Linked DNA regions of Homo sapiens: region 2 is linked to region 1. Evidence: fine-mapped expression QTL. Tissue or cell type: whole blood. Region 1 holds a variant in brackets; the other region holds the start of a gene. All regions are shown on one strand. Distances are from middle to middle.

What was found. PIP is the estimated chance that this variant, and not a neighbour inherited with it, causes the effect.
Region 2: SACM1L starts here. The variant in region 1 is fine-mapped to the expression of SACM1L in whole blood (INTERVAL, PIP 0.95).

Annotation. Positions count from the first base shown.
Region 1 is chr3:45,757,405-45,763,390 of GRCh38, reverse strand. It overlaps SLC6A20 (solute carrier family 6 member 20), which reads left to right. Exons shown (of 11, transcript NM_020208.4): 9 at 319-478; 10 at 3,369-3,534; 11 at 4,264-5,986. The coding sequence ends at 4,413. Among named protein-coding and RNA genes, the nearest start is that of SLC6A20, 36 kb to the left of the region's middle. The variant C/T (reference allele first, on the strand shown) is at 2,617.
Region 2 is chr3:45,686,050-45,692,035 of GRCh38, reverse strand. It overlaps SACM1L (SAC1 like phosphatidylinositide phosphatase), which reads right to left and starts at 2,640. Exons shown (of 20, transcript NM_014016.5): 1 at 2,539-2,640. The coding sequence starts at 2,570. It overlaps LIMD1-AS1 (LIMD1 antisense RNA 1), which reads left to right and starts at 3,154. Exons shown (of 3, transcript NR_033947.1): 1 at 3,154-3,660. It overlaps TRR-ACG2-1 (tRNA-Arg (anticodon ACG) 2-1), which reads left to right and starts at 2,965; the gene lies at 2,965-3,037. It overlaps LIMD1 (LIM domain containing 1), which reads right to left. Exons shown (of 8, transcript NM_014240.3): 8 at 5,695-5,986. RefSeq lists a silencer at 2,449-2,628 and enhancers at 2,659-2,948, 3,209-3,258, 3,769-3,838.

The sequences.
Region 1 (5,986 bases):
GCGGGATCCTGGAATGACAGTGCCCACTACGTCTGCTTGTTCATTGAGCTTTAAGCTCTGCCACCCCTGCAGGGCAGCTCAGTGAGTCAACATCAGTGACCCCTGCCAACACGCTTCGGGACACCATTGTGCCCCCTGCCCCACACACGTGGCACACACCTTCAGAGAGTCCAAACCATGACAGCTCTTTCAACCCATGTGGATGAAGCAATCAGCCAAAATTCCCTGAGGGCCGACGACCCCACTGTCCTGTAGAGAACTGGTAAGCAGTAGTGGGGGGGTCTCGGGCAGGTGAGCAGCTGGTCTTGTGGCCCCCAGGTCTGGTGTGCCTTGTCAACTGTGCCATTGGCATGGTGTTCACGATGGAGGCTGGGAACTACTGGTTTGACATATTCAACGACTACGCGGCCACACTGTCCCTGCTGCTCATCGTGCTGGTGGAGACGATTGCCGTGTGCTACGTGTACGGGCTGAGGAGGTGAGGAGGCCCAGGACCCTCATTTGCATAGGGAAAACACAGCCACAGAGGCCACGCCCCTCAAGGAAAACAGCTGTTTCTTGATGCACATCTTCACCTCTTCTTTAAGCTTCGCATCATGACTCAACGTTTGTTCTTTGCCCGCAGATCTCAGCTTATGCTCTGCCTCTATTCCATGCTCAGTTTGCTTCAGTGAATATCTTTTTCTCTATTCCCTGTACTTTTGCTTTGTATCATAGGCTGTTTTAGGGTTGACCCTGCTGGACCCCCACAGCTTACTGGGGCAGGGAATTGTGCCTCCAGGCACTGGATGCTCTGATCATCGGCCAACATCAGTATTTTCCAAGAACCCTGACCAAAGTCCAGTTGATAACTTAGACCTTAGAAAATTTGGCAGATTCAAAATTTAGTCAGTGAGGTTCTCAATCCCAGTGCACAGCACGGGACTGGAATGTTTTAGTTCTCCCCAGGTGATGGAATGTGCAGCTGGGGCAAGAGCCACTGGTCTAGAGCAACCTTCAAACTCGAGTGTGCCTCAGAGTCCCTTGGGCTGGTCAAACACAGCTGTGAGACTCACCCCCAGGGTTCTGATCAGGCAGGCCAGGGGAGGGCCAAGAATTCACATTTCTAGCAGGTTCCCAGATGAGTCTGGCACCCACACTTTGAGAACCACTGGCCTAGAGAGCTTTGCTACCTCAAGTGTGGTCCCTAGAGCGGGAGCAGCAGCAACAAGGCGCTCGTTGGGACTGCAGAAGCTCGGGCCCACCCCATCCTGCTGAATCAGATCCTGTATCTTCACACTATGTCCAGGGGGCCTGAGGCACATCACAGTTTGGGCAGCGCTGCTCTAGTGGGTGCGGTTTGGGCGAGGAGGCTGTGCCACGTTGTTTTCTGCCCTCTTCCCCAGTCTTTTTGATCCTCTGTGCTGGTTCAGGGTGGGGAGGGAGACATTGACAACACTCTGGGAGGCAGGCATCCCTGAAGCAGCAATCCCTGCTGTGTCCCCGGAAAGGCCAGGGTCCCGTGCCATGCTGAGGGATCTCCCATGATCCATCAGGACATAAGTTAAACAAAGCCAAATTGATGTCTTTCCCGTAGGACTTCTCAGAATCTTAAAGACAGTTGTGGATCCCAAAGAGAGGGTTAGAATTGCAGCATTTCCAGACTTACTTGGTCAAGGAATGCCTTTTCACCCTCCTCTCACCCGACTCCCACCCTTAGCTACTAACATTTTGAGGACACTAGTGTTAAGGGGACCAACTCTCCCTGTTTCCCCAGGATTGAGGGGTTTTCTGGGACGTGGAACTTTCAGTACTAAAATTGGGAAAATCCCTGGTCACCTAGGAAATGCCAGTCTAGAGGGAGAAAGAGATTGGTCACTGAGAGGGTGAGTGTTTCAGGATAAAAAGAGAAGGTTGGGAGAGAGGAACAGAACCTAGGGCCCGCTGGAGGTCACTAGATGGGTGAGGGGCACAAGTCCATCAAAAAGGGGCTGGTGAAGGGAGACAGAGGCAGAAACAAACGTGCCTTGGAGATGTCGTAGGTGGACTGACCATGTAAGTGGCAGGAGGGGAGTGCTTCGGCTTGCTCAGGTGACACCGCCATCTAGTGACCACCCAGCAACAGTGTCCTGGGGCTTTTCTGCAGCCAGCTCTTCCCAACTTTCTCCATCCAGGAAAGGGGGGGGGGTTATGGGGGTGTGAAGGGACAAGAGGACCCCCAACACTTTTTCACCTGTCTGATTTTGAAAGCCCCAGGTTTTCGTGTCACATACATGAGCCTTCATGGCCTGCAGCCTAGAGTCCAACTACGTCAGCAGCAGCAAAGGGCAGGTGGTGGTCGCCACACAGCCTCGCATGGACACCCAGGACATGCAGCAGGTCCCAGGGAGGGAGGGGCTGTGGCTGCAGCTGGTGACGTCACACCCACACCACCCCAGCCCCTCCCGCCAAGGCTGCCTCTTCCGCTGTAGGGAGCAGGTTTAAAGGCTCTGGGCTGGAGGCAGGAGGCCAACCCAGGTTCTGGGCCTGGTCTTTACCAAGCCCTAAGGAAGAAGGCATCGCAGCCCTGGGCCTTGGTTCCTCCTGTGTGAAATGGGGAGTTTCGTTGGGCCAACATCTCCCAAAATGCCAAAGATA[C/T]TTTTTATACTGTGTACGTGTATTCAAAAACACACGTACTTAGTTTGTCAAGTCGATGAGAAACTGGCTGCTGTTGTGCTGCTGCTAACCGTAGGTTTAAAAGTAAAGAAGAGGGAAAAGAGAGCTACAGGCATGATGGAGGTGGTGATGGTGGCTGTGGGCAACGCCTTTGGGACTCACTGCCCTGGCCACTCTAGACCAGCTCCAGCAGGCCAGGGCTACGGTCCTTCAGTCCGAGGTTGGCTCTTCCTCTGTCCCAGAAAACCTGCTCTGGTTTCAATGGACCAAGTGATTCTGCTCCGTGGTGTTTCTACTGGGAAAGGGAGTCACTGATTGACAGGGGCGGGCTGGGTAGGGGGGTGGGCAAAGCCGCCCAAGAAGTCCCTGTCATTGATGACCAGCCTGACAAATGTCCATCCCCTGCTGCCTGTGCCCACCATTCCTGGAGGCTGCCCTCTGGGCTATGCCAGCAGCCTTCATCTGAAGGCTGGCATTAGGAAGGCGTCTTCTGATGTCCACTCTCTGCGGGTTGCTTGCTCCGTCATCCCTTCTGGGCAGCCTCAGCCCTTCTCCCCTCCCCACCGCAGCACTCGTCTCTCAAGAAGGTGTCACAGAGGAGCCCAGTGGCCAAGCTCAGACATCCTTTACCACCTAGAACAGAATGTTCCTTTGTGAATAGGGACAGGCAAGCTGGACGCCCTGACCTCCGCAGCCTGGTTAATCCAGACTTTCTCTCCCTGTTTTCCAAATAGATTTGAAAGTGACCTTAAGGCCATGACCGGCCGAGCTGTGAGCTGGTACTGGAAGGTGATGTGGGCTGGCGTAAGCCCACTGCTGATTGTCAGCCTCTTTGTCTTCTACCTGAGCGACTACATCCTCACGGGGACCCTGAAGTATCAAGCCTGGGACGCCTCCCAGGTATCTACTGTCTCCGTAGGGCTGGCGCTGGGCCCCCATGGCCACTGAAAAGCATGGGCCATTCATTTTCCGAAACCAGGGGACTATTTCCATGGTGTGGGTAGGTTATTTGTCACGACATGGAAATATCACTGAGGTATTTTAGAAATAGTCCAGCACGGAGGAGCTGGGCTTTGAGCTTTTAGGTATGTGCTTCAGTGGGGCGAGAGGAAGGCACTCCTCCAGAGCTTCCCCATCCACCTGTCCCCCGGAAGCTGAGAAAAACTCCCGCTGCAAAGGCGCCAGCTCCTGCCTCCTGAGCAGCGCTCTCCTCCGCGCCTACCGCAGCAGACAGCACTGACAGAGAACGTTGCTACCTTCACGGGAAAGTCCCATTCCAGGCTAAGAGTAGTCGCCTACAGTTTAGGTTCCCTGAAAGTTGCCTTAGACATAAGGTGCTTGATTATTACCATGGTTATTCATTATGGGTAGCTCCAAACAATAGCTCTACACCCACTGGTTCAAGTAGTTACTATTATTCCTAGTTTATGGAAGAAAAAGAAGGTGAGGGCAGTTAGGCTCCTGGCACATTTGCTAGTGAATTGCAGAGCCCGTGGCCCCAGGAGTGAGGACACCGGCCCCACATGCTCTCTGCCCACGTCACATCACCTCCCCATCACGGATGGGCCCTGAGGCCCAGGGGCAGTGCTCAGCAGGTGCTCTCTGCTGACACTCAGTCTCTCCTTTCAGGGCCAGCTCGTGACCAAAGATTACCCGGCCTATGCACTGGCTGTCATCGGGCTGCTTGTGGCCTCCTCCACCATGTGCATCCCCCTGGCGGCCCTGGGGACTTTTGTTCAGCGTCGCCTCAAGAGGGGAGACGCAGACCCCGTGGCCTGAGATGTGGGCTTCCCAGCCGCTCACGGTTTTACAGATACTATTTACAGGCGGAAACTCCTCGGCTGCTTTTTCAAATGCTTAAGCCAGGAGTGCTCAGCCCATCAACTTCCTGAGTGTCTAAAGAAGATGAGGAAGGTGTGCAGGAAGAAAACTCCCTTGGGAGAACGCACACCCTCCCGTGGTGGCTGTTCCTCCCTGTCACCTGCCTCCTCATCATGGAAGGGGGTGGGCTATGAAAGCCGGTCTCAAAGATAACTGCATCCTTCATTCCAGGAAAGCCCTAGAATTAGGGCACATTGCAAACTGAAATATGACTATAATTCTTATGGGACCAAATTTAAGCAATTTTTGTTTTTGGCTGAAGAGACACCAAAATATTAGAGGACAAATATTTTTAGATCCATTTAAGGAGTTTTGAAGTGCCTAAGATGACCTATTTGTCAGTGGTGCAAAATTAATTCTCTTCTTTTTTGAGTTGTAGTGAATATGCAATTTCTGTGTTCCCCTTCCACCCTTTAAATCTTAGGATGACAAGTTATAAAGAAAGAAGATCTTTGTCTGGGACCCCCAAAGGGATCCTTTCTCTAAGGTCTCTGACGGTGGGTCCAGGACCAGACCTCTCTACAAAAAATTGCCCCAACTACAGTTTGCAACCCCAAACCACATTAGAAGTCTGTGCAGACATCCCTCCGTGGTGTGTGTCTTGGTGCATTGGAAAAGGAGTCAGGAGCCACTGTGAGGTGAGAATGAAAGTGGATCTCAGCTGGGCACGGTGGCTCACGCCTGTAATCCTAGCACCTTGGGGGTCAAGGTGGGTGGATCACTTGAGGTCAGGAGTTTGAGGCCAGCCTGGCCAACATGGCGAAACCCCATTTCTACTAAAAATACAAAAAAATTAGCTGGGAGTGGTGGCATAGGCCTGTAATTCCAGCTACTCTGGCTGCTGAGGCACAAGAATCATTTGAACCTAGGAGGTGGCGGTTGCTGTGAGCCAAGATCATGCCACTCCACTCCAGTCTGGGCGACAGAGCAAGACTCTGACTCAAAAAAAAAAAAAAAAAAAAGTGGCTCTGACTTTCCCATAGGCTTAATATTACATTTGGACATCGTGGCCAACTCTATCAAGACCACAAATACCACTTACAATTAATTTTAAATTATTCATCTGTACATAGTTTTCTAAAATGTATATAATTCAAACAGAGCATCTTGTAACTGAAGACACACCATATCTATGATATCGCATTAGTCCATGTGGGGAAAAGAAAGATCAGATTGTTACTGTGTCTGTGTAGAAAAGGAAGACATAAGAAACTCCATTTTGATCTGTACTAAGAAAAATTGTTTCTGCTTTGAGATGTTGTTAGCCTATAACTTTAGCCCCAACTCTGTGCTCACAGAAACATGCGCTGTAATGAATCAAAGTTTAATGGATTTAGGGCTGTGCAGGATGTGCCTTGTTAACAATATGTTTGCAGGCTGTATGCTTGGTAGAAGTCATCGCCATTCTCCATTCTCGATTAACCAGGGACACAATGCACAGCAGAAAGCTGCAGGGACCTCTGCCCAAGAA
Region 2 (5,986 bases), 71 kb after region 1:
TGCAGAAGTGGGGAAAAGGCTCTGGGCAGTTACGGGAAATAAATTAGGCGACAGATTATAAAAAGGCTAGAATATACAGATGGCTAAGAAATGCAAGTTTGATCCTATAGGTCAGTAAGATGGAACTGGAAATTGTAAGCAGGAAAGTAGAGGATAAAACCAGAGCATTAGAAAGGTGAAATTCAACAAGGCAGAGATGGGCTGGAGAAAAAGCATGGCATAATGCAGACAGAATTATTATTTAAAATCCGAAGTAGGACAGGTGTGGTGGTGTGCATCTGTAGTCCTAGCTCCTCGAGAGGCTGAGGTGGGAGGCTCGCTTGAGACTAGGAGTTAGAGGCTGCAGTGAGCTATGATCAAACCACTGTACTCCAGCCTGGGCAACAGAATGAGACCCCATCTCTTTAAAGACAAAACGAAACAAAAGAAAAAAAAAACAAGCATTTCAACATTTAAATAAATCCTTTTAGCAATCCTTTTGTAATAAAATAATCGAACTATCTCTTTTGCATGGATATTTCTTAAAACACATCTCCAGACACATTTTAAAAAATGGCTACTATCTCCTACCAATTCTTACACAGAAACCAATTTCACTTCTAAATGCATCCAAAAAAGAATACTCCTTAGGGCAGGAGCCACATTTGAAAACCTTCAACAGCAGCCTCAGAGCAGGAAGGGCCAAAAGGAAGGAATAAAAATGGAAACTCTAACTCATAAACCCCTTGGTAAAGAAAAAGGTGCAAAAAAGTTGTACCTTCACATTTACAGAAACACTCTAAACTTTTTTTTCAGGGGGAAAAAAAGCTAGGACTGACAAATGAGAGAATGACTTTCACATAACCCCAGTTTGACTTTATCACCCAAATAATTTAAGAGTTTCCACTTCTCACAAAAATCAATACAAAAACATCATTCTTACTACTTCAGGGACAAATTTCCTTTCTCTTTTATGTATGCGAGGATTTGGGTTTGTTTTAAGGTCTGAACTGGTTAAATTTAGTGTTCTGGCAGCTGAAAAACAATCATCATAATTCTCAAGTTCTCCATCCTATTCAATCTTTGCCACGCTAAGCTGCATGAAGCCATGGCTCCATATGGCTTAAACACATTTGAGACCTGGTGTAGGATCACATTAAACCCTTCAGTGCCTATCAGATACACAATAACCTAATTAGCTAGCAGAGCACATGTGACAGTGGCCTGGCCAGAAACGCAGTGGAAGACACTTCCTTCAACTCTTTCACCAAAGACGAGGTGAGCACTTTGCAAAGGGGAACTGGGAGAAAATAGGGAAAGGTGGAGAGGAAAATGTGGAGGGAAGTGTGCAGCTAGGGTTTTCAAAGAACATTACAGTAAACAGAAATGGCACCCACAGGGGGTGCACTGTAGAAAAAGCAATCATCTTTTTTGCAACACATACAATGTGGAATAGATGACCTCTCTGAATTTTGCACCTCTAACTTTCCACTGAACCTTTCAGAAAGTTACTAGTGAGGTTGAGGTCTGAGGAGCTTAAGTGCCCAAACCACATTTTGGTGTCATTTCCCTGCAAAAGAAATGCGGTATCTATGCCTAACTGCCAAGGTATTTTAGCTCATATACAGGGATAGATAAGCTTCTAAAAAATTACATTTGTTTCTCCTACCAGATATTCCCAGGCTGTGGCCACCAGATTTTCAAACAGCCTAGGGGTAAAGCATTAAACACGAAGTGAGTACAACAAAATTATTCACAGACAAGAAAAGTGTGGATGCTAATGGGTAACACTAAGGGAAATAAACACATGTTGTTTTTAATCCAAGACAAACCAAAACCCTTAAAAACACCTATTTTATAACTCTTAACAACCACAGCCTCTGTATCAAAGACTCAAGAACTTGGATTTACCGAAAAGTCAATTTGCAGTACCAAAATTACCGAGATTAGCCTCTGGCTGTCGACACTGACTTAAGAACCTGCTTTAGGCTGGAGCTGTTTAAAATTTAAACCAAAGTAAACTCCTTCAGGACCTTAAGACTACTGACTGTACTTTAAATTTTTTCTGCACACTGAAGAGGGGGCAGGCAGGCTTCGGTACCCAGATAGGCTGTAAGCAAAACAAAGATTTGTTGATTTGTGCGTAGACTCTAAATTGCTGCTGTAGGTCCGTTAAGTAAGAGAAAACTCTTTTTCTCTGTTAAGTCATACAGATAAATTTAGTCGGTAGCTCTGCATAGAAAGTGGGGACAAGCGTGCCCTGAAGGGCCGCATCATAACGCCGACCCCGGCTCGGTGGGGGCCAGTCGGCAGCTTCTCTCTTCAGCCGTGGGCGCTGGGGCCGAGCACGGTGGAGAAAGGCCGGCGAGCCGCTGGTTCCCGGCCTATGGCTACTCGGGCGAGGCCTAGGAGAGGCCGCGCCGGCTGAGGAAAACCGGTAAATGCGAGGAGCTCCCACACCCTATCTGCAATCCGGGACTCAGAAGCCCTCCCCGAGGCCAGGGCCCGCACCTGCCGCCCCGCCCGCCGCGCCTCAGGCCTCTGGCCCGTGGGACTCACAGCTTCAGCTGCTCGTAGGCCGCCGTCGCCATCCTGCACAACCACCTCCTTCCTTCTCTCTCCGCCCGCCCCGCCCCGCGCCGCCACCTCGGCTACAACTCTACCGGTCACCCTGGCACAGCGGCCGCAGCTCCCAGCCTCTTCCCACCCCTTTCCCCGCCCCGCAGGAGAGCCGGCCTGAACGGGAGGCGGTGGAGGACAAATTAGTGCGCAAGCAAGAGCACGCGAGAGATGCCGCCGACGCGGCGGGTTGGAGTGCGACGAAGAGCGCCGTGACGAAGCCGCTGCGGATTGGTGGGGCGCGTTTTGGGGAAAGGCAGAGCAGCGGGAGCGCGGCGCAAGGGCAAAATGGATCGTTGGTACCCGGAAGCCCGTTCAAACTGTATAAGGGTGATCAGCTATCACGGAGAAGGCTTTAGCAAGTCGGGGCCAGTGGCGCAATGGATAACGCGTCTGACTACGGATCAGAAGATTCTAGGTTCGACTCCTGGCTGGCTCGCGATGTCTGTTTTGCCACACTTGACCCATGTACTACTGGGTCTTGTAAAGATGTATATTCACAATGTGAAAGTATTACAAGACCTTGGAAAGGTGTATGGTTAGAATGTGAAAGTTAAATATCTGAAATTTTGATGCCGCTTTGCTCACAATGTCATCCTTTATCCTTTAAACCTGGAGTTGTCTGAGGTGGTTTGCAAACTGCAAAGCGCCCTGTTCCCAATGATGCACCTGAGAAGTCTGTAAATGGGGTAAATTTAGGCAAACACACCTGGAAAAGTGGCATTTTGGAGTGGGGAATGCTGTGGCCGGAGGTTAGCAACCGGATGATGCAAAAGCGTATTTAAGGCAGCAGTTCTGGCCTTTCCCCGCCACGGAGCAGAAGCCCCCATAGTGATGTGAGAAGCGGCGCTGTCCCAGTTTACTAGGATGGGATGGGCTTTGGATCTAACCAGCAGCGAAGAAAACCTGCGGTGCGGCTGCGCTCGGTAGTAGGGGTCCACAAAGCGTCAGAATCTGCAGCAGCCCCGGCCTTTGCGAGCTCCAGCTCCGAAGTCAACCCGGCCCCCAAATTCCACTGGGAAACCTTAAGACACCGGTGTTTTTACCGTAAGAAGACCTCAGGTAATCTAGTATATTACCCCTCATTGTATGGATGCGCGACTTGGACACCCGAGAAGGCGCGAAACGTCTGCGGCCTAAAGGGACTCGAACCGGGGGATTATATGAGTCATCGGACACTGTCCGTTAACCAATCACTCAATCGATCAATTAATTTCCGCAACATAACGTTTTCCCCTGATAAAATTATAGATTTTTAAAATATATAAAATTATTGGGAATATTAACGCGATTCCCACCCTAAATCATTACTATTATTTTTTTTTTCCTTAAAGCCTTTTTTTCTTCTATATTTTTTAACATGGGCATACTTGCACATGTGTTTTTCCAAATTGGGGTTGTACGGAAATGGGTTCCTCATTTTGTCTCCTTACCTTTTTGTCTGAGATTTAAGGTCATTAAATATTCTTTGAAGATATTTCATCAGAGAGCTAGATATTTTAAGCAGAATCCTTATGCTGGGAATTTGGGTGGTTGTCAGTTTAACACCTAGAAAAAATGATGCTGCTTAGGAGTTCGAGACCAGCCTGGGCAACATAGCAAGACCTCATCTCTATTTACTAAATAAATAAATAAATTTTAATTAGCCAGGTGTGGTGGTGTGCACCTATAGTCCTAGCTACTCAGGAGGCTGAGGTGGGAGGATCACCTCAGCCCAGGAGGTTGAGGCTGCAGTGAGCTGTTACCATGCCACTGCACTCCAGCCTGAGCAACAGAATGAGACCCTGTGTTGAATTATTATTATTTTGAGACGGAGTCTCGCTCTGTCACCCAGGCTGGAGTGCAGTGGCGTGATCTCGGCTTACTGCAGTCTCTGCCTCCCGGGTTCAAGCAATTCTCCTGCTTCAGCCTCCCAAGTAACTGGGACTACAGGTGTGTGCCACCACGCCCGACTAATTTTTTGTATTTTTTAGTAGAGACGGGGTTTCACCGTGTTAGCAAGGATGGTCTTGATCTACTGATCTCGTGATCCGCCCACCTCAGCCTCCCAAAGTGCTGGGGTTAGATGTGAGCCACTGTGCCCGGCCGAATTATTTGTCTTACAAATTTCTAGAGGTGGAACGACCAGGTGGACATCTGTAAGGTCCATTTTATGGACATTTTTAAGACTTTTGTTACTTTCTGACTGCCCTCCAAAAAATTAAACCAAAACACACTTCCATCAACAGCACCTGTTTCTCTGTTTTCGTGCATGCTAACCAACACTGGCTATTATAAATTTAACCGTGATTTGCAATTTTCATAATTGGAATATGGAACTTCCTTTTACATGTACTTTATATATTTTCTCTTGATGTATTGAATTTTTTCTTACAAATTTGATTTTTTAATATATTAAGGGTATTAACTCTTAAATACGTTGCAATCTTTTTTCCAGCTTATGATTTACCTTTTCAAAATTTTTTTAACGGCTGGGCACGGTGGCTCATGCCTGTAATCCCAGTGCTTTGGGAGGCCAAGGCAGGTGGATCTCTTGAGGTCAGGAGTTCGAGACCCGCCTGGCCAACATGGTGAAACCCTCTCTCTATTTAAAAATACAAAAATTAGCAAGGCATGGTGGTGTGTGCCTGTAGTCCCAGCCACTCAGGAGGCTGAGGCAGGAGAATTGCTTGAACCTGGGAGGTGGAGGCTGCAGTTGGCTGAGATCACGTCACTGCACTCCAGCCTGGGTGACACAGTGAAACTCTGTCTCAAAAAAAAAAAAAAAAAAAAAATATATATATATATATATATATATATATTTGAACTTGTAGTAATTTTCACTTTATATATTCACACTTACTAATATTTGGTTTCTTCTATTATATGATTTTTTAATGTTTTGTTCTTATGTTGTTTTTACCATTTACTTTAATCCATTTGTCATTTATTTTGTTGCCATTTATCATGATGTAAAGATCAATTAATCTTAAAACCTGACACACTTTATTGAGCAATTACTTCATGCCAGAAACTGCTCTAATTCCCTTACTTGGATGAATTCAATCATTCCTTACAACAATTGTTGTACCTGAGCGAGTTAGAAAAACGCCACACTTTAAGACGAATTAAGAGTCCTTTATTAGCCAGCGACCGAGAGACGGCTAACACTCAAAATTTTCTCAGCCCTGAGGAAAGGGCTAGATTTTCTTTTATACTTTGGTTTAGAAAGGGGAGGGGGGGGTCTAGTTAAAACAATTTTACAGAAATAAAGTAGGCAAAAAGTTAAAAGGATAAATGGTTACAGGAAAGTAAACAGTTCCAGGTGCAGGGGCTTTAAGACTATTACAAGGTGATAGACCCGGGGCTTTGGGCGTTATCAATCAGACGAATTCCTGGGAATTGCGGA